Linked DNA regions of Homo sapiens. The protein of the gene in region 2 interacts with the protein of the main gene of each other region in a biochemical or structural test. Each region holds a gene or a part of one and is shown on either strand. Other genes may lie near its edges. The genes, in order: PAX8 and SERINC1.

Region 1 (11,160 bases), on a different chromosome or scaffold from region 2:
TTCACCTCTTCTTGGGAAGGTCTGCAGCCTCCTGCGCTCCTGGAACCATTCCCTTCCTAACCTTCCCCACCGCCCCCCGTCATGTCCTCCCAGCTCTCTCACCATGGCTCAGCCACGTGTTAGGTATTGAGATCCAGTCTTGACCAGAGGCCTCAGGTGGACAGTCTGTAAGGAGCTCCAGGCCAACACCCTGAGCTCAGCATGGACACCAGCCATCCCCTCCCTTGTGCCTGAGCTGCTTTCTGACTTGCTTCCTACTCTTGGCCATTTGCCTGGACCCCAGATCCTCCAAGGCTAGCACTCCTCACTCTTTTCAGAGCCTCTGCCTCTGTGCTGAATTGTCAACCCTTGGGCTAGGGGGCCCTGTGACCAGCCAGCAACCTTCAAAGTGCTCACACCTGCACTTCAGCATCATCTGGGCCTGGATTGGGGGCCACCAGCCTGAAAGATATGCCGGTGCTGCATATTTGGCTGCCTGCTTCCTACATGACTACCTGGTGTCTGCTGCCAGCTGTTTTGTCCCATGGGTTGGGTGACCTCTCAGTCCTGCAGTTGGCCTGGAGAGTGGGCATGTCCACTAAATTAACAGCTGACAGTAGTTGGAGGCGTCACCTCTGATTGACTGCATGTTGACAGGGGATGCTAACAGGATGACAGGGAGGGGACAAAGTGTAGGGGCTTTGGGAGTAGGGAGTTTGCCCTGGGCTGTTCCAGTTGCACTTTACACTACAGCCTATGTCTGCACTCTGATACATCTATCCACTTCCAGCTGCCCTACATCCTTCCCTCTCCTTCAGCTGGTCTTGCCAAGCTTCTCCGCGGCTTCCACAGCACCTGCTCCCCATCATCATGGGCACCACCACACCCTCACCCCTTGCCTGCCCCATGACCGCCGCCAGCTCTAGCCTGCCATTCTCAGAAGACATGCAGGCTTGCGTAACTCCCTGTAACTGACATGAACCTCTTCTCCTCACCCCCTCCCCTCCCCTCCCCTCCCCTCCCTTCCCTTCCCCTCCCTTCCTCTCCACTATCCTCTCATTCCCCTCCCTACCCCGCATCCCATTTTCTCTGGCTGACATAATTTTACTCAGCTCACAGGTTTTGCTCTTTTCATCACTTTGGTCAAAACAAATGACCCATCTCTGCTGCCTTCACCCTCTTGAATTCTTGAACTCCAAGTCAACTCCTCGCTTTAGACCCTTAAACACCATCTCTCTGCCCACACACTGGATGTCCCTCTCTTCTAAGGAAACTTCTCACATTAGGTGCTGGGATGTACGGAGGAAAAAAAAAAAAAAACCCGGGTGCCAGCCAGAAAGAAAATGTAGAGCCAGTTATAAAAAAGGGTCCATGGGCTGGGTGCAGTGGCTCACACCTGTAACCCCAGCACTTTGGGAGGCCAAGGTGGGCGGACCAAGGTCAGGAGATTGAGACCATTCTGGCTAACATGGTGAAACCCCATCTCTACTGAAAATACAAAAATTAGCCGGGTGTAGTGGCGCCCATTTGTAGTTCTAGCTACTCGGGAGGCTGAGGCAGGAGAATCACTTGAACCCAGGAGGTGGAGGTTGCAGTGAGCTGAGATCGCGCCACTGCACTCCAACCTGGGCAACAGAGTGAGATTCCATCTCAAAAAACAAAAAAACAAAAAAAAAAGGGTCCAGGGACTTTTATCACATGACCCTGTGGTTACTCTGGGCTTGTAGAGGTCTTAATCCTCTGGTGCAGTGGTTTCGAAGTCCAAGGGCTTTCTAGGGGCAGGGACCCCTTCTAAAAGAGCAGTTCTTCAGGGGTCTGGTGAGCATACATGTCTTCTGTAAAAGGCTTCATTTCAAGAGAGCATTGAGAGGCCCAAATTTGAAACCACTGGTCCAGATGGACTGTCTGACTCTGGGCTGCCTCTGTGACAGGTCTCACACACCCCACCCACGCACTGGTCTCTGCTCCAGCATTTCAAGGTCGTCGGGGTAGGAGGGTGTGGGAGGTGAAGAGGCATTTACTTCTGTCACTAAATACCCACACTCCTTGGAGACAGTGCCGCTATTAAAGAGATTCCTCCAATGCTGAACTGAGAGCTAGCTGGCTTCCTTCCCTGGTCCTGGGCCCCCACTGGGCCCACATCTAAAATAGTCCTATCCCTGTGGAAGCCCTTGAGGTATCTGAAGACCATATGGGTCTCTGCTTCCCACTTTCACTGCATCTCAGGCCCTCTCCAACCCAAGCCAAGCGCTTGACTCTCAGCCATTCCTCAGGCCCTGGCTGGATGAGCGAAGGTCCTTCTGCCAGGAGGAGCCAGCTCCCCTTGAGGTCTGACTCATGCAGTGCAGGCCCAGGCCTCAACCAGCTACAGATGGTGCTCCTGCCCAGAGACCTTGGCAGGGACCTTCTCCTCCCTGGGCCAGGTTCCTCATCAGCATAAGAGGTTTGATCTAGAGGCTCCCTCAGGTGCTTCCAGATTTACTTATTTTTATTTATTTGTTTTTTTCTTTTTTGAGATGGAGTCTTGCTCTGTCACCCAGGCTGGAGTGCCATGGCGCCACCTCAGCTCACTGCAACCTATGCCTCCTGGGTTCAAGCGATTCTCCTGCCTCGGCCTCCCCAGTAGCTGGGATTACAGGTGTCTGCCACCACACCCCCTAATTTTTTGAATTTTAGTAGAGATGGGGTTTCATCATCTTGGCCAGGCTGGTCTTGAACTCTTGACCTTGTGATCCACCTGCCTCGGCCTCCCAAACTGCTGGAATTACAGGGGTGAGCCACCTCGCCCGGTCGGTGCTTCCAGCTTTAAATATTTTGAGGCAGTTGAGGTTCCTGATGGGAGGTCCCCCACTCCTCTCAAGTTGTTGAATCACTGAATTTATCATGTTTAACAGATGTCTGACTGTCCTCCCGGTGATGCTGTTAAGCTAGGAATGAAGATAGCTGCATCATGGAAACACAACTGGGACTGACCCTTGGCCTTTTTAGAAATTTGATCCAGAAATGGGCTCCAAAAGCCAATTCCTTTTTCCCTCCAAAATGTTCATTTTTCCTTCTATCTATTTATGCATTTACCAAGGCCAAGTTGCTACGTTACAGCACCCGGCTCCCGGCCTTAGGGTTCCTGCTTTTCCATGGGGTCTTGGGGTGGTGCATCCCCGGCACCCCTACAGCATCCGCCCCTTCCGAGCATGTCTTCCCCGTCACAGAGAACTTCATGTTGGCGCCTCCAAAAGTTGCCGGAGGAATTAGGGAACAGGGTGGGGGTGGATGAGACTGAGGCCAGAGAGGGGGCTGGCGGTCTGCCCTGAGGACCCCCGTCCCACCCGCCGCCATAGCTGCATGGCCCCGGGACCTCCCTGTCGTACCTGAGAGGAGGGCCTGGCCCGTGAACTGCCCGTACACGGAGGCAGCATGGGGAAAGGCATTGAAGGGCGGGACCCCGGAGCCGACTTGCTGCAGATCCAAAAAGGCGGAGCTAGATAAAGAGGAAGGGGTGGAGCTAGAACTGGACACCTCGGGGGTTTCCTGCTTTATGGCGAAGGGTGAGTGAGGATCTGCCGGAGGGAGGGAGACAACAAGGAGAGAGGGGTGTGAGATGGCGGGGAGGGAACACGCACAAGCCAAGCCGTGGGATGTGGAGGGTGCGGGCGGGGCGCGGGGCAGGCTCAGCTGCCCTCAGAGTCTGGGCTGGGGAGAGCCGGGGCCCACGAGGCGTGGCAAGGCGGGGAGAGAGAAGCTAGACCTCCCTGCTGCGCTTCTGCAGCGAAAATGGAGAGACCCGGAAGGCGTGTGTGCGCCCGCCTCTCCCACAGGAGGGAGCGCGGAGACCCGGGAGCGGCCTAGGACCGGAGGCGCGACCCCTCGGCCCACCTTGAGGCCCGGCCTAGGACCGGAGGCGCGACCCCTGGGCCCACCTTGAGGCCCGGCCTAGGACTGGAGGCGCGACCCCTCGGCCCACCTTGCGGGAGCCGCCTAGGACCGGAGGCGCGACCCCTCGGCCCAGCTTGAGGCCCGGCCTAGGACCGGAGGCGCGACCCCTCGGCCCACCTTGCGGGAGCCGCCTAGGACCGGAGGCGCGACCCCTCGGCCCACCTTGAGGCCCGGCCTAGGACCGGAGGCGCGACCCCTGGGCCCACCTTGAGGCCCGGCCTAGGACTGGAGGCGCGACCCCTCGGCCCACCTTACGGGAGCCGCCTAGGGCCGGAGGCGCGACCCCTCGGCCCAGCTTGAGGCCCGGCCTAGGACCGGAGGCGCGACCCCTCGGCCCACCTTGAGGCCCGGCCTAGGACTGGAGGCGCGACCCCTCGGCCCACCTTGAGGCCCGGCCTAGGACCGGAGGCGCGACCCCTGGGCCCACCTTGAGGCCCGGCCTAGGACTGGAGGCGCGACCCCTCGGCCCACCTTGAGGCCCGGCCTAGGACCGGAGGCGCGACCCCTGGGCCCACCTGGCGGCCCGGCCGGCACAGCCCGCCTCTCCTCTCCAGGCCAGGGCCCCACACCTTCCGCCTGACAGCCAGCCAAGCTCTTCAGTCCCCCGCCCTCCACCTGCCAGGGAGGCTCCGGGCGTTGTACCTGCCACCACGGGGTAGGTCTGGTGAGTCGAGAGGTTGCGCCCCAGTGGCGTGTTGGAAGGGGTCAGGGTGGCCTTCCCGTCGTCCAGGGTGCTGTTGAGCAAGGGCAGCGGGTAGAGGCCCTGGGGAGCAAAGAGAAGTCAGCGCACAGAGACGATCCAACAAGCCGACCTTCCTGCAGACCCTGAGCCTGTGTCTTAGGACTTGGCAGCCCTCATCTCCCCAGGAGAGGTCCTCATCGCCCCCTTCTTCCTTTACGTTCTCAACTCCACTCGGCACGTTTCGTTCATGCTCATTGTCCTCCCGCATCCCTGGAATTCAAGGCCAGCTGGTAGCATGGGTGCCCAGACGTGGGATAGAGAGTCTCAGCCAGAGGACCACACCCTGGTTGGATGGCTGGTCGGCTTCCTGGTTTCACCACACTGTTGGGACCCACAGAATGCAGGACGGTGCCAAGGACTGGAGCAGTCTCCAACCGGACTGTTCAGGGTCCTTGCATCTGTTAATTTATTCTTCCCCAGATAGGAAACCCAGGCACAAAGGTTTAAGAAACTTGTCCCACTTCCAGATGGGCCAAAGATAGGATTCAGATTCGAGGGATCAGAATGTGTCTGCTCTCAACCACTGCCCTAAACTGGGTGACATAAGGACCACTTCTTACATTTGCAAAGAGCTTATATCAGAGCTTTGCCTCTGTTGTCCTAGTAGAGTCCCCCAGCAGCCCAGTGACATGGGTGAGTAATATTATGTCTGTGTTTTATATGTGGAGCCTGGAACTCAGGTAAATGGCCCAATTTTGTATAGTGAAACAGACTAAACCCGGGATTTTTCGGCTGTGGACCCAGGTGCTTTACCCACCACGTGGATTTCTTCTTTTCTCTCTCCACATCCAAACAAATAGAAGTGTGCAAGTTCGGCTTGAAAATGGTATTGAGAGTTGTTTTTGTTGGAAACACTCTTTGTCAAGTACCTGGGGGTCTTCATCAGTAAGACCTCATTTTAGATGCCTCCTGGCCTCCCCTTCCCAGGAGCACAGCTATGACCTTAGGTACTCCTTCCGAAAAGAACTTGTTTAACTAAAGGTAAGTGTACCTCATCCTCACCATGGCCTCCTTCCACTGGGGAAGCAGATAGCGCAGAAAAAAGAACACACCCATTCCCCACATACCTTCACACTCGTCACATACCTGCTACGTGAGATGTGCAAAGCTGAATTCAGGGAATGCTCAGTAGTTACATAACAGTGCCACTAAAGGCAATTGTTTTCAGTGATTTCCATCGAGCTGGGTTCTGCAAAGATCCACAGCACTTTCCGGTTGCATGCTGGGCACTTTTGGAAGCTGCAGTCAATTCTGGAGGCCACCAGGGCACCATTAGCACATAGCAGCAATTATTGACTAAATGGTGCTCTGGTTCCATGCCTTCCAAGGGGGCCCACTTAGAGGCAGGGTGGAGTTGCTTAGGGCCTTTTTTTTTTTTTTTTTTTGTAGACGGAGTTTTGCTCTTGTTGCCCAAGCTGGAGTGCAATGGTGCGATCTTCGCTTACTGCAACCTCTGCTTCCTGGGTTCAAGTGATTCCCCTGCCTCAGCCTCCCGAGTAGCAGGGATTACAGGTGCGTGCTACCATGCCAGGCTAATTTTTTGTATCTTTAGTAGAGACAGGAGTTTCACCATGTTGGCCAGGCTAGTCTTAAACTCCTGACCTCATGATCTGCCTGGCTTGACCTCCCAAAGTGTTGGGATTACAGGCATGAGCCGTTGCACCTGGCCAGGGTGTGTCTTATTGAAATTGAACAAAATACCTAATTTCTAGAGCGTATAAGAGAAGTTTAAAATGCTTTATGGATGTGTTGTTTTGACAGCAAAATATCTACTCAGAATCCTATAGCTATTTCAAAATCCAAGTAACTTAGAAAAAAAGGAAAAAGAAAACCTATATAGTCAAATCTTTTGGTGATTTTGTATTCAATGACTGAAACTTCCCAGTGATTATTGGGCTTTTTAGCTGGAATTGAACTTGAATCGGGGCAGAGCAGCACAATGCTTCAGAACTTCAGCGACTCTGAGCCCTGGTTCTGCAATGACCTGCCAAGTAGCTTTAGTCTACTTGACTGCTCTGAACCTTAATTTTCTCACCTGTATGGGAATCATAGACTCTACTTTATGAGGCTGACGTAAGCATTACATGAAATTTTGTATACTTATACATAATGTGCTTAGCACCGAATACTTGGTGACAGCAGATGCCCAATGAGAGTTATCACAGATATTATTTCAGAATCGTGAAGAGTCAGAAGCCACCAAATTCTTGATTTCTGTCAATAAACTGATATTCATATTCTGTTGATTTTTTTTGATGCATTTGTAAAATAGGGAAACAAGAGCTGTATGACTTCTAGCTATGTCTGGTCATGAAATAGCAACCAGGAATAAGGCCACATGATGTTTCTGATGAACACTTCCCCCTGCCCTTTTTTTTTTTTTTTCAGATGGAGCCTCGCTCTGTCACCCAGGCTGGAGTGCAGTGGCACAATCTCGGGTCACTGCAACCTCCGCCCCCCAGCTTCAAGCGATTCTCCTGTCTCAGCCTCCCGAGTAGCTAGGATTACAGGTGCACGCCACCAGGCCTGGCTAATTTTTATATTTTTAGTAGAGATGGGATTTTGCCTTGTTGGCCAGGCTGGTCTCAAACTCCTGACCTCAGGTGACCCATCCACCTTGGCCTCCCAAAGTGCTGGGACTACAGGTGTGAGCCACCATGCCTGGTCCCCCACTTGTTGATTTTGCAGAAAAGATAGCTGTGTTACAACCTGTCCTAAGGTCAGGTATGAATACTTGTGCTTCTTTCTTGGCTCCCCAAGCCAGAGGGCATTCCTATGCCCAGGTGAGAGAGCACGGAGTGTTACTTTGGCAGCACAGTCAGTTACCAGAGGTAGGAAAAGCAAAGGCCAGGCAGGACATGAGGGGCCCTTGCACTGGCTGGTTCTCCCTGCCTTCACCACCCTCCAGGTGAATGACTGGGTGAATAATGATTGACTGAGGAGGTAATGAATAATTTATGGACACTGCTGGACCTCAGTCTCCTCATCTGAAAGATGAGTGGTTGGAGAAGTTTAATGGTTTTCAAATGCTTTTTTTTTCAGTCTTCAAATAAGTGTTTACGTAGAAGCACCATATCTGAAACAGGTGACAGTGGACCAGTCTGAATGAAATGAGGGTTGGCAGGCCTGAGCTCCAAAACCTTCTGATTGCCCAAGCCCTCCTTGTCTTGCTTGGATTATCTCCACACAAATGGAGAAACTGGACAAGGTGGTCATGGAGGTCCCTGAAAGCTCAAAGACTTTCTCATTCCAGGATTCCCCATGTTCATATGCCAGCATGGCATGGGGGTGCTCTGTAGTCAAGCAGGGTCCTTTGGGGGGCTTAGGGATGGAGCCAGGAAATGGCTCTGGGACTCAGCGGGTGTCCAGAGTCTCATCAGCAGGGTTTCTTTACTTTCACTGAGTGGCTGGTGCCTGCACACTGAGTTTTGCAGGCTTACTCTCACAGAGTGAGCTTCCTGCAGGCCCCCCACTGCAACCCCTTTCCTTCCTGGAGCTGTGTGCTGACTGGTGCGTGAGCACCCCAGGCCCTCTCCCCATGCTGCTGATGGTCAGCTTTCTCTGCACGCTCGTGGTTGCCACAGTCAACGCTGATAAAATTGCTGATGCAGATTGCCTGCCCAGCTGCGAGTGCTGGCACGGGACCAGCAGCCCAGACGGTCACTGGAAGTGGTTGGGCTGATTATTGGCATCATCTCCATTGTCCTACTCGGTTCTTAAAGGCATATGGACTTGCCTCACTCCTACAGCAAATGACGGCATGGGCAAAGAGGGGCAACAGACCCACCCTGAAGACACTCCTCATCTGGTTGACTTGGCAGGGTTAAGGGAAAAAGATGTGATGACTAGGAGCTGAGAGCTTAGTGGTTCTGCCAGAGCTGCAGAGTCTTTGTTGGCCTCAGGGTGGGACCTCTCACATCTCTGTCAGCTTTTCACGGACACCAACCTGTTATGATTCATTTCACCTGTCCTGAGCACTAGCAAGAAAAATTCGCTGTAGCTTGTGATGTATTATTCTGGATTTCTCAACTCATTCATTTGTTCATTCATTCACTATACCATTACTGTCTATTATAAGGGGGGCACAATGGTAGGTGCTGGGAATAAAAACGATGTTTAACGTTTCATGAGGCTTCCCTGTCCTTAAGGAGTCCGCGTGTCTTTGTACCTGTCTGTCTGCTAGATTATTAAGTGACACTGTGAGAAGCTACTGAGAGCAGCATGTGGGACATGCAGAAGGGCAAGAGGCAGGAGAGATGATTCATGTCGGAGGGGCAGGGGAGGACTGACGGAGAGGGTGATGTTTGGCTGAGTCATGAAGGCTAGTGGTATTTTTCCATGCAGAGAAGTGGGAGGAAAGGCATTCTGTGTGGAGGGCACACAGTGTGCAAGGGCAGAGAGGTGTGAGCGAGGGTGGTGAGCTCGGGGCCATGAGTAATGCAAGAGCATGGGGTGTGCAGGATGAGTGGCCAAAGGTGGGGCTAGGAAATAGTGGCTGAGGTCATTATGTGAAGGCTTTGTGCTACTGCTTCAGAGTTGTGGAACGTGATGTTGCAATCTGGGAAAGACGCTGATGGCAAGGGATAGCATCATCAGGTTGTGCTGCCATCCCTGAAAGGCCCAGGCTCAAAGGTTTTGGGTGAAGGAAGCCAGGAGGGTTAGAAAGGGAGGAAGATGCCAGGGCATCTGGTAAAATAAAGCATGTGTCAGGCTTGGAGTTGCATAAGGCAGGTGCCCTGAGCCCATTGATGCAACTTCCAGCTGCTTTGATGGAGCACAGGCTCATTTGGAGAATAGACCTTCTCTGGCCCTTGCCCACCCTGTTCACCTCCCAGGGCCCAGCTTCTCACCTGCTCGCCTTTGGTGTGGCTGGGGGAGGCATAGGCCTCTGGGTAGTGCTGCCGCTCAAATGGGCACTCGAGCGGCTCGAGGTGGTGCTGGCTGAAGGCATCCGTGCGAAGGTGCTTTCGGGGTCCGCTGCTGCTGCTCTGTGAGTCAATGCTTAGTCGGCAGCTATCCTGATCACCTGGTACCCCCCGGGAAGGAAGAAAGCTTTTAGGGGACCTATCTATTCATGCTCTAGGCCAAAGTAGAGGACTGACTCCAAGCTGACTCACTGTGGAGGGAGAAAAAGGGCCAGCCACGTGGGCCCAGGAGCCTTGGCCAACTGAGGGACAGGACATGTGACAGTCACATGCAGAGCCCCTACAAAGTCCCATATCATAAGTGGAAGGGTTTCTGTCCCCATCAAAGCCTGAGCAAACTGCTCTCGTGCACCGCCCGCTGCCCTCCTGTCCCAGCACTCACTGTCATCCATTTTCCTCTTGTCGCTGCCAGGCTGAGCGATGCCCAGGAGCCCATTGATGGAGTAGGTGGAGCCCAGGGAATCCGACTGGGGTGACTCCGGGGGAGTTACAGCTGAGCTGGGGACTGCAGTGGGGGAGAGGGAGAGGGTCAGGGGTGGGAGTGACACCCCTCACAGCCCTGGGTGACTCTGGGGTAGTTACAGTTGAGCTGGGGACTGCAGGGGCTGGGGGAGAGGGAGAGGAGCAAGGGGTGGGACACCCCTTACAGCCCTGGGGTGACTCTGGGGGGACTGCGGTGGTGGGAAGAGGGAGAGGGTCAGGGAGTGAGAGTGACACCCCTCACAGTCCCTGCTGACACTGTGCAGGAGGCAGCAAGCCGAACCATGGACTGAGCCCTGGAGGGGCTCAGGTCCTTCCTCCAGGGGGCCTCCTGGTGGGAGGGATTCTTGGAGTTAGAGCTGTCTCAAGTGTTTGCACCTCTCCATAGTTCAGTGAATCTGCCCTGGGAACAGGCCAGACTTCGTCGCAGTGGCACAACTCAGTCTACACATGGGTTTGTGAATGGTACTGTGCACAGCTATGTCTGTGTGGGTGTGTCTGTGTGTGCCTCTGTGTATATGTGGGTATGCTGAAGGGGAGGTGTACACGAGCATGTGTGTGTATCCAGGTCTCTCAGCACTCACTCAGCGTGTGTCCGGGACTCAGGGACTTGGTGGCCACGCAGCTGTCCATAGGGAGGTTGAATGGTTGCTGCACTTTGGTCCGGATGATTCTGTGATGAAGAGAAGAAAGGCCATGAGAGAGAAGAGGAGGAAAGAGAACTCATGGCTGCCCCAGACCCAGTCGCCTTTTTGACACCCCTTTTGGGTATCTCCAAGGCACTTGAAACTCAACTGTCCACAGTCAAGTCTGTGACCCTACTCCGCATGCCTAGTCCTCCTCAGTTGTCCGCATTTCATGATTGGTACCATCAGTCACTCAAGGCCAAAACAGAGATGGGGCTTAACCTCTGCTTCCCTCTCTTTCCTATCAAACCCATCATCAAGTTCTGTGTTTTGACCTTGTGAACCTTGCCAACGTTGACCCCTCTCTGCGTCTCTCCATCAGCACCTTAGTGCATGTCATCACCAGTGTTCCAGGGTCACTCAGTGGCCCACGCCCATCCCCTCTTGGCCCTTTCTAAGTGATTCTCCCTACTGC
Region 2 (11,160 bases):
GCAGTCATCAATACCAGCTATGACCACATGTCCAGCTGCAGAAACGAGGGCTGTAATTGTTGTGAGTACTTCCTCCTTGTTTTGTCAAAAACATGTTCATGCATGCATATACTTGTACTAAGAAAATATCTTCATTTTATTTCCATTCTCCTTTATCATGTGACATAAGATTTACTGACTTCACATCAGCATTTAAGTATTGTTAACTTTATGTAATTAGTATTTTGGTTGGGGACTGGTGCGTTTTCAGTTGTAAGGTTAGTTGTATGACCTTATTATTGTCTTTATTTGCAGATTATGTATGATCTCAGGAGATGTATACGGGTTCAAGTTGACAATGGGTAGACTTCTGATAGTTATACTGAGTGTCAATTGAATTCAAGGATGCAAAGTACTGACTTGTAATGGTTAATACTGAGTGTCAACTTGATTGGATTGAAGGGTGCAAAGTACTGATGCTGGGTGTGTCTGTGAGGGTGTTGCCAAAGAAGATTAACATTTCAGTCAGTGGGCTGGGAAAGGCAGACACACCCTTAATCTGGGTGGGCACCATCTAATCAGCTGCCAGCAGGGCTAGAATATAAAGCAGGCAAAAAAAAAAAGTGAAAAGACTAGACTGGCCTAGCATCCCAGCCTACATCTTTCTCCTGTGCTGGATGCTCCCTGCCCTTGAACATCAGGCTCCAAGTTCTTCAGTTTTGGGACTAGGACTGGCTCTCCTTGCTCCTCAGCTTGCAGATGGCCTATTGTGGGACCTTGAGATCATGTGAGATAATACTTAATAAACTCCCCTTTATATATATCTATCTATCCTATTAGTTCTGTCCCTCTAGAGAACCCTAATACACTTGATTATCAGAAAAAACAACAATTACATAAACTGCTTTTAAGACCATTTTGAGAAAGATGTATTTCTCACTAATTCATTATGGAAAAATGAGAATGTTAGTTCCATTTCACAGGCTTATTTCACATAAGTGGGATAATGTATCAAAGTATAAGGTGAACTGTATAAATGAATAGTTTTTATAAACACATGATAAATGCCTCCATCTAAAACTCTAATAATTTAATAAAATAATCAATGACCAAAGGAACAAAATAAAGGAAAAGCAACCCGTCACATATTTTCTCATTAATATTTATATTCTACTTGTTTATACTTTTTGTCTTTGGTAGCACATATAACTAGATAAGCAACAGCAGATATTAAAACAGTCAAATAAGGGTACCAGAAGTAGTGCTCTATATGAAGGAAGATTGATAAAAGAAACCCTGAAGTTTCTTTCTGGGTTGTCCAATACAACCAACCTAGAAAAATCTGCTCTCTGGGTCTAGGGAACTGAGAGTTCTATGTAAGTGGACTGGTCCACCTAAAGTTAACAGTAGAAGGAGAAATAGCTATTCCCTTAGTAGTCACAAATATAATAGAGCCTCTTTTTTAGTATGAAAATATAAAACACTGTGGATCAGAGGTTATCACAGCTATTATTTAATATCCAAAGTCTGACATTCTCCAGTAAAAACAAGATTTTCTTATCCTGTCATTCATGAATAAAGTAATTCTGCAAATTGTATAAGTTTATTTTACCTTAAAGTTTCCTTGGATAAACTGGCAATTATCAAGAAGAGGCTACCCAAGCTTTTATATTGAAGCTTATTTAAAAACTTACCCATTGTGCACTGCAGCTCTAGGATCACTGCTACTCTTCACTTTGATCATTAGTAAAGAGAGAAGAAGATAGAACATAGCCAAACCAAAGCACAAACGATATACAGCTTTATAGCCAACCAAAATGTTACAAGGGACAACACCTTTCTCATTCTCACAAAATCCAGGAATCTAGAAAAACAAAAGAGTTTATGATCCATCATTTTTTTTCATTAAGTAAAAATAAAAATTACATGTAATCAAATAGTTTAAGTAAAGGTTTAGAAAACTGGCATTTGCTTTACAATTTATGATGAATATGTACTCAAGATGAGTCTGATACATTTTAATCACATACAGTGGGGAAAAAAGAGTTAAATCCCCATCTGCGCAAATCATAAACTACAATACCAACTCTATGCTGGTTGCTTATTTTGAGTTATAGATTTATCCTACATTTTAAAAACTTGCATTCTACTTGAATAGCACGATAGACTTGTTTTAGTAGTGTAAGTGCTATTTCTGAGACTACTGTTCAGAACTATTAATACATCTATTATTCATATATATAAGAATAAATTATTTCCTCCCACTCTTTCCAGTCCCAGCACTCTAAAAAAACTGCTTTTCCAGGATACTAGTCATGTACTGGTTTCCAAACCCAAAGGCTACTGCTTAATCACATTCCTTAATCTCATTTTTATATAGACACTATCCCTGTCATTCTTAAAACTTTCTTCCTAGAACCTATACATTTTCTTTGTTCTTTTCTGTTATCCCTTCCCTCCCAGTTTTCTAGGATCAGAATCAGGTTTTCCTTTCTCCACTAACTCCCTTAAGTAAGAGATTTTGGCAGAGTTCTAGCTCTGCTCACTCTGAATGATCTTCAGCATACGCTGCCATGGTTTCAACATTCAATTTCTATCCTCAAGGCAGTCTCTAGCTCTGATTTCTCTTTTAAATTCCTTCATGTTTTCTACTTACTGCTGTATATTATTATGGACTTCGTGTTTGTGTCTACCCAAAATTAAATGCTGAAACTCTAACCCTCAATGGGAGGATAGTGGGAGATAGGGCCTTTATGTGGTAATTAAATCATGAGGGTAGAGCCCTCAGGATGGGATTAATGCCCTTATAAAAACAGACAGAAGAGAGCTGCTGCTTTCTTTCAAAAATGTAAGATGGCCATGTGTAAACCAGGAATAAGATCCTCATCAGAACTTGACCATGGTGGCACCCTGATCTCGGACTTTCAGCCTCCAAAACTGAGAAATAAATTTTTGTTGTCTTAAGCCACCCAGCCTATGATATTCTTGTTATAGCAGCCTGAACTGAGTAAGACATACATATATATATATATATATACATGTACACGATACAATACCACCAAGTCAACATGTTAGAAACTAAATTTATTATGTGTTCCCAATCTCCTTCCACAACCTGACTCTCTCTAAAAATTTTCCTTTCTAGGTTAATAGCAATACTTTCCTCCCGGTTTTGTAGGACCAGAACCTGGTTGTTATTTATGATTCCATATCACTGCCAATATTTCAGTGCTAGGCTCAGTCAATTTTACATCCAGAAAATCTTATTTCAGGTCCGCTATTCTCTTCTTGATTATACCACTGCAACAGCCTCCATATTTAACTGCTTGACTTTTATACTTTATTAATTGTAAGATTAATCTTCCTAAAGTATAGATACTTTGCTTGAAAAGCTCTTTTATACTCATTATGCTTTCTATTTTTCAATCTCTGTATATGCAAGTTCTAATCATTCTTAGAACATCCTTTTTTCCATGACCCATTGAGATTCTGACACCTGGTTAGAATTATACTTCTTTCTGTGTATTACCACAGTACATTTCCTGTACCACCATCATAGAACTTAACAAACTAATGTATATTATCTTTTTCCTAAAAGATTATGAACTACAACTAGGATTACATACTGTCTTATTCTATATTATTCTGTTTACAATATCCCCGAATCAATTTTATACATATACATATATACCCTATAGCCTCAGTTAATCAATAAATAAGAAACGAGACTAACCTTATTCAGTTGTTCTTCCATTCCTGGTATCAACATTACACAAGCTACACATACTCCAACAAGCAAGAAAAGTGCATAGATCAATCTAGTTACAGTGGAGTTGTTTCCACTAGGACAGCATCGGCATAGCAAACACGGGGCACTTCCACACAAACATGGTATCTGGGAAAAAGAATATTATTGAAAATATTATTAAGAATCAGTAAATCACTATATCTTAAAATGATACAATGAAAATTGACATTCTATCTGTTAAAAAAGAAAAAAGACTAAAAGTAATTACATCAAGGGACATACGGTATTTGGTTCATATAAATTATCTATATACCACAAAACTTAGCAACTTCTAAGAAGGAGTAAAGACAAAAAAAATCCTTGGACTCTATGCCAAGTAAAACGGACAAATCAGCTAAAACAAAAAGGGGAAAAAATCATCAGCAGTAACCAAAGTTTAAAGAGGAAAAGAAATGGAATATTCATGAGTAGCACAGCTGCTAAGCCCACCTCCAGCCCCTGACCTTTAGCCCCCAGATACTAGACTGATGAATACAAAAAATTCCGAGGATTCTCAAATACATCCAGGGAGGGAAAAAAAAGTGAATTGATATATTTTCCTTCTTTTGACCTGGCGATAGTGATAATAATGAAAACTACAACTAGAGTGAGGCAAAAAGGATAATAATACAACTGGGGCTAGCTTTTCTCCAGTAACCACCACACTAAACTAGCAGTATGCCCCCAAGGGAACAGAATATCTTCCTGTCTAGGAGAGAGGAACACTGGTACAGAGTATTTAACAGTATCTAAGAAAGCCACAGAGTAAATATTCTCATAATATCATAACCTGGGCTGAGATGTCAGACTTCTAGAAGGTGGATGAACCAGATCTTCCAGCCCTAGAATTACAGCTCTAGGGGAAAAGAGTCTTAGATATCACAGTAAGGGAATGTTGTAGAAGCCAGACCACTACACCAACCAATATAAGGTAAGAATAAAGCTGCTTTATATTAAACGTCCACAAAACGGAAATACATGTCATGGCAACTATGTAAATATACTTTAGCAAAAGTTAAACATAAACATCTCCCCTCAGAAAAAGGAATGAAGAAAATATAAGGCATATGAAGAATTCAGTCTGAAATAAATATAATCCAGTAAGAAAAGGAAATCCCCTACCAGTATTTCATTTGAGCTACAGAAAAATAAAAAATATTTTTTGTTAAAAAAGGAGACCTCAAAAATGAAGTAAGAACAGAACACAATGGAAAGTGGAAATCAAAGGGCTAAAGAAATGAGAAGGGAAAAAACGGACTTAACTAGTAACTATCAAGAAACAAAACAGACATAGGTAAACATAAAATTACTGATGAAAAAAGGCTTGGGATAATTACTATAAATTCAGGTCAAGATGGAGAAACCATGACCAGACTTATCCTCCTGACTTAAACAATGGAAAAAATAAGTTTTTCAGACAATGAACAACAGGCAATGTAAAGCCAGCAATTTCTAAGAGGAGACAATGTGAGCCCTATGACTGGCCCTTATTTTATTGATTAATTGATTGATTTACACAGTCTCCTTCTGTCACCCAGGCTGGAGTGCAGTGGTGCGATCTCAGCTCACTGCAACCTTCCCCCACCCACTCCGGGTTCAAGGGATTTTCCTGCCTCAGCCTCCTGAGTAGCTGGGATTGCAGGCGTGCACCACCACACCCGGCTAATTTTTGTATTTTTTTGTAGTTTTAGTAGACAGGGTTTCACCATGTTGGCCAGGCTGGTCTCCTGACCTCAGGTGATCCGCCTACCTCGGCCTCCCAAAGTGCTGGGATTACAGGTGTGGCCCACCGCGCCCAGCCAAGTGGCCCTTATTTCTGCCTAGGGAGAATGTTCACTGCAGGGAGGGTCTGAGAATTTTACCACCCAGAGGTGAAAAACTTTGTAATCCATGAGGCATTGGGTAAAGATATCAGAAGGCAATTAATACTGGAGAAAAATCAGCCATCAAACTAAAGGCTGCACTAGTTGCACTTAACGAAACCTAAAGGCAAATAAAAAGATCACACTGTCTCTAAGTAAAATCACCCAAGTCAAAGATAAAAGCCCAAGAATATTTTTTTGAAAATAAAAGTATATCCAGCGCTGATCAAGGAAAAATTTACACTGGAAAGCTAACAAAAAATTAGCAGGCATGCAAAAACCAGAAAAATACAACCTATAATGAGGATCAATCAGTCAATATCAACCTGGAAATGATATAGATAACTGAGTTCATTTATAAATAGGGCATTGTAGTATTACTGTTAAGTATATATCACATGCTCAAGGAAGTAGAGGAAAACTTGATAATGTTACGGACAGACATGGAAGATAATTTAAAATTAAGACCCATATCATACTTCTCCAGATGATAAAATAAGCCCCCTAAATATTGACAAGACAGAAGAAAAGATTAATAATGAACCTGAAGACATAAGAAAATAAATGATCCAAAATGAAAGAGAGATAAAAATAAGAAAAGGATCAGAACATTGTGAGACAACTTTAAATAGCCTAATATAAGTGAAATTAGAGTCCCTGAAATGAACTTCAATTGGAGAGAAGTGACACAAAGGTGCTTCTGAGGAAGTAATTGCCCAAATTTTTCCAAATTTATGAAAACGATAAACTCACAGATCCAGGAAACTCAACAAAGCCCTAGCAAAATAAACATGAAAACCACACCAAGTCACATCATAATCAAATTACTTAAAAAAGTAATAATCAGAAAAATCTTAAAAGTAGGCAGAAAAATAAAATGTACATTATAAACTGAGGAACAAAGAAATAAATCACACTTCTAGTAAGAAACGGTTCAAGCCTAAAATCAGTACCGAAAGAAAAAAATATGTAAACATAGAATTTTGTACGCATATTCTCACTGATAGGTGTGAATTGAACAGTGAGATCACATGGACACAGGAAGGGGAATATCATACTCTGGGGACTGTGGTGGGGTTGGGGGAGGGGGGAGGGATAGCATTGGGAGATATACCTAATGCTAGATGACGAGTTAGTGGGTGCAGCGCACCAGCATGGCACATGTATACATATGTAACTAACCTGCACAATGTGCACATGTACCCTAAAACTTAAAGTATAATAAAAAAAAAAAAGAATTTTATACTCAGTGAAAATATCTTCCAAAAATTAAGGCAAAATAAAGACATTTTCAGGAATAGAAAAGACAAAATAATCCAAACAAGCAGAATTAAACTACCAGAAATGTTGAAGGAAATCCTCCAAGAAAGAAAATTATACCAGAGAGAAATTTGGATTTGCATACAAAGGAATATGAAAGAGACATATTCTTCTTATTTAAAAAAATGGGCCAGAATTACAGAGACTAAATCCAAAGACATCATAAGAAAATAATAGACCGATATCCCTCATAAACATACACAAAAAAATTCTTAATGATATTTTAGCAAGTCAAAAACAGCAATATGAAAGTATATAAAAAGGATAATATATTGCCACCAGGTAGAGTTTAGCCTGGAAAAGCAAGGCTGGTTCCACTTTTAAAAATCAACCAATGACCTCTACTGTATAAACAGACTAAAGAAAAAAAACAAGGTCATCTCAATAGATACAGAAAAACCATTTGACAAAATTCAATACCTATTCATGATATAAACTGTCAGCAAAGAATAGAAGATAACATCCTTAACTTGATAAATGGCATTTACAAATACCTATAGCTCTCACCCATAATTAATGACGAAAGTCTGAATGCTTTCCCTGTAAGACATCAAACAAGGCAAAATACCTCTCTCACCATTTGAATTCAACTTCACACTGGAGGTCCCAGCCAATATAATGAGGCAAGAAAGAAAATAAAACATAAAAATTGGAATGGAAGACACGAAACTGCCCTCTTCACATATAACACAACTGTCTATATAGAAAATCCCAAAGAGGGCCATACACCATGGCTCACACCTGTAATCCCAGCAATTTGGGAAGCTGAGGCAGGAGGACCATTTGAGCCTAGGAGTTCAAGGAGTTCAATGATAGCGCCACTGCACTCGAGTCTGGATGACAACAAAACAAAACAAATAAAAACAATAAAAATACCCCACAAAGAACCTACAAAAATGCAACTAGAACTAACTCATCGGTTTAATAAGGTCACATGATAAAAAGTCAATATACACAATCATGTTTCTACGTATTAGTAATAACTGAAAACAAAAAGAAAATAGTTATAAATCTAACAAAACATAGACAAGATCTCAAATAATGAAAACTACAAAACATTGGTGAAAGAAATCAAAGACCTAAATGAATGGCAAAATATACAGAGTTCATAGTTGGAAGACAATTATTTTCAAGATATCAGGTCTTTCCAAACTTATCTATAGATTCAGCCCAATTCCAATCACAATCCCAACATCAGATTTACAGAAATAAACTAGCTGAACAGGCAAAAAACACCAGAATAGCTCAAACAAGTCTGAAAAAAGAACAAAGTTAAAAGACACACTACCTGATTTCAAGACTAGCATTAAAGTGACAGTAATTAAAACAGAGTGATATAGGGAAAAGGGTGGACACACTAAGTAGAACACAATAAAGTTCAGAAATAGATTCATGCAAATATAATCAAAGGATTTTTGACAAAGATACCAAAGCAATTCACTATGGAAAGGATAATCTTTTTAACAGATGTTGCTGAAATAATTGGATATTCATACATTTTTTAGAAAGTTAACCTTAAGCCATAATCAAACCATATATGAGAATTAAGATTTCCTAGATACCATATAAAAAACAGGACTCACAAAAGAAAAACAAATGAATTGGGCTTCATCAAAATTAAGAACTTTTGCTCTTTGAAACACACTGCTGAGAATGAAAAAGCAAGCCATAAACTTGAAAATACTTGCAAGTGAGGTACATGATAAATCATCGGCATCCAGAATATAAAAAGAACTCTAAAAACTCAGTGATAAGAAAACAAACAACTCAATTAAAAATGGGCAAAATATTTAAACAGATACTTTAATAAAAGGCATATAGACAGCAAATAAGCAAAGAAAAAGTGCTCAATATCATTATTAGGGAAATGTACATTAAAATCAGAGATACTACTGCATGCATATTAGAACGGCTAAAATGAAATAAACTGATGATACCAACTACTGACAAGAATGCAGAGCAACTAGAACTCTCTTACTTTGGTGGCGGGAATGAAAAATGGTACAACCATTTTGGAAACCAGTTTGACTGTTTCTTATTTTTAAATCAAACATGCACTTACTGTATGAATAAGCAAATCCACACTCAGATATTTATTCAAGTGAAATAAGAACTTATAATTACACAAAAAAACCTTGATGGGAATGCTTATAGCTACTTTATTTGTAATCATCAAAACCTAGAAAGGCTCCTCAAATGGTGAATGGATAAATTGTGGTACATCCAAACAAAAACAATATTCAACAATAAAAACATACGGAGAATGAAACTCATTATGTGCTAAGTAAAAGAAGCCAGACTCAAAGACTATATATTGTAGGATTCCATTAATATGACACTCTAGAAAGGCAAAATCCTAAAGACAGAAAATAGGGGTTGCCAAGGACAGGACAGTGCAATTTTTTAGGATGATCGATGTTCCAAAACGGTTACACGACTAGAGATGCATTTGTCAAAACTCATGGAACTGTATATTACAAAGAGTAAATTCTACTGTATGTAAATTATACCTTAACTAAAAAAAGTCCTTAAAATAGAGAATCCTCTAAATAAATGAATTAAAGGATATTCACAGATCTAATATAAGAAAAATTCCTTAGATGGAAAAATAATCTGTGCATCAAAAGAGCACACTACTTTTTGAGAAGGGGAAAAAAAGTGATAAAAGATTTAAACTCAGACTTATCTGGTTATTTAATTTCTAAGATAAACAAAAACTCTTCAGCTACTCAGGCAGAGGAAACAAACCACCTATGCACGTGCAGAGGGACGGTGTGGAAACCAGGCTGATATAAGACAGAATACGAAAGAGAAATAACTACAAAGTTCTGAAGGAAATTCGTATACTATATTATACCAGTCCAAAATGTCTCTCAAGAATTTAGCAGGCACTTTCAAAAACCAAAGAACTTAGAGATTCCGGCACCAATAAATCCTTTTTGAAAAATCTACTGATGACAAAATGTGGTCAATTAGGAGATGACATTAAAATAAAAAATTAGAGCAAAGCAATGGTAAGCCAAGGACTGGTAGAGAGCTTTGCATCCACTTAAGTTTAGAGCACTGGTTCTCAAACTGTAACAACTACCAGAATTACCTGGAGGGCTTATTAAAACATAGAATGCCCCCAGTCAATGTTTCTAGGGTATAAGATAATGGCAACATAAAAATAATAGTACAAAGTGCTTCTAGTTAAAGATGGCAGACTGAATATATTAATTTACCTATGTTCACTCTAGAAATCCCAATAAAATAAAAAATAAAGGTTTGGGGTTTTTTTTCTTTAAAAAAGAAAGAATAAAATGTAAAAGTCAAAAAGAACTAGATCTTTTGTTCTAGTTCTTTTGTTTTGTTCTTCCCAGAACAAATCTAGGAAGTAGAAACTACGAAGTAGTAACAACCTTAACAGAGAAAGCTGAATTCTAAGTTATCAAAGGAAAAAGTTAACGAGCAACACAATTCATTTGGCAGAATCCCCAAATAGTTCAGGAACTGGTGGCACCAGGAGTCTCTGTAAGTGACACTAAAGGTATAGTAAAAATAGATGATTGGTTGAATGTCTTTCCAAAGAGCAGTTAAGACTCCCAGATTTCATTCCATTTCTTGCACTAGTCACCTGAAAGAATAAAACATGAGGTTTGACAGGGAAACACCAAGTAGAGTTGACAGAAGGGGTTCCATACTAAAAACATAAAATTAAGTCAAATTTTATGTACTGAATGTGAAGAACCTCATCATTCTTTCCGTCACTTGCCTTCCAGAATGCAGGTATATTCCCCAGGTTGGAGACTGGAAGTGTACCCTGGATCTATCAATAGCCCTAGATAAATATCTGCATTAGGCTTCCACAATAAACTGGTTGAGCCAGATCACTTCACGGTAGTCACAGCTGACAAGTCCTACACCAAGCTCTTGAGTGTCCCACTCCTAAATATGAACAAATAGCTACTGACCACTGAATACTCCGGAAAACACTAAGATCAATGAAAGTGGGAGGAGTGGATAGGAGAAACTTGAAAAGAAATTATAGGCAGACATAAAAGCATAAAAAATTTGGTATTTTTAATATACTTACAGAGTATATTAATAAACTATATAGTACAGGGTATATCATAAAGATAAAAATAAAGATTTTTTTAAAAAGGGAGAAAGCTTGCTTCCATGAAACAACCACAGGATGCTATAAAAATGGAACAGAGGCCAGGAACGGTG

What was found.
Region 1: the proteins of SERINC1 (region 2) and PAX8 form a complex in vitro, tested with the Homo sapiens proteins (one study listed by BioGRID).

Annotation. Positions count from the first base shown.
Region 1 is NC_000002.12:113,232,047-113,243,206, forward strand, and holds part of PAX8 (paired box protein Pax-8), read right to left. Parts: intron 10,733-11,160; coding exon 10,644-10,732; intron 10,085-10,643; coding exon 9,962-10,084; intron 9,681-9,961; coding exon 9,505-9,680; intron 8,797-9,504; exon of another isoform or gene 7,043-8,796; intron 6,167-7,042; exon of another isoform or gene 6,044-6,166; intron 4,676-6,043; coding exon 4,555-4,675; exon of another isoform or gene 4,223-4,554; intron 3,537-4,222; coding exon 3,348-3,536; intron 1-3,347. UniProt on the Homo sapiens protein: Transcription factor for the thyroid-specific expression of the genes exclusively expressed in the thyroid cell type, maintaining the functional differentiation of such cells.
Region 2 is NC_000006.12:122,454,808-122,465,967, forward strand, and holds part of SERINC1 (serine incorporator 1), read right to left. Parts: intron 3,875-11,160; coding exon 3,713-3,874; intron 1,844-3,712; coding exon 1,674-1,843; intron 1-1,673.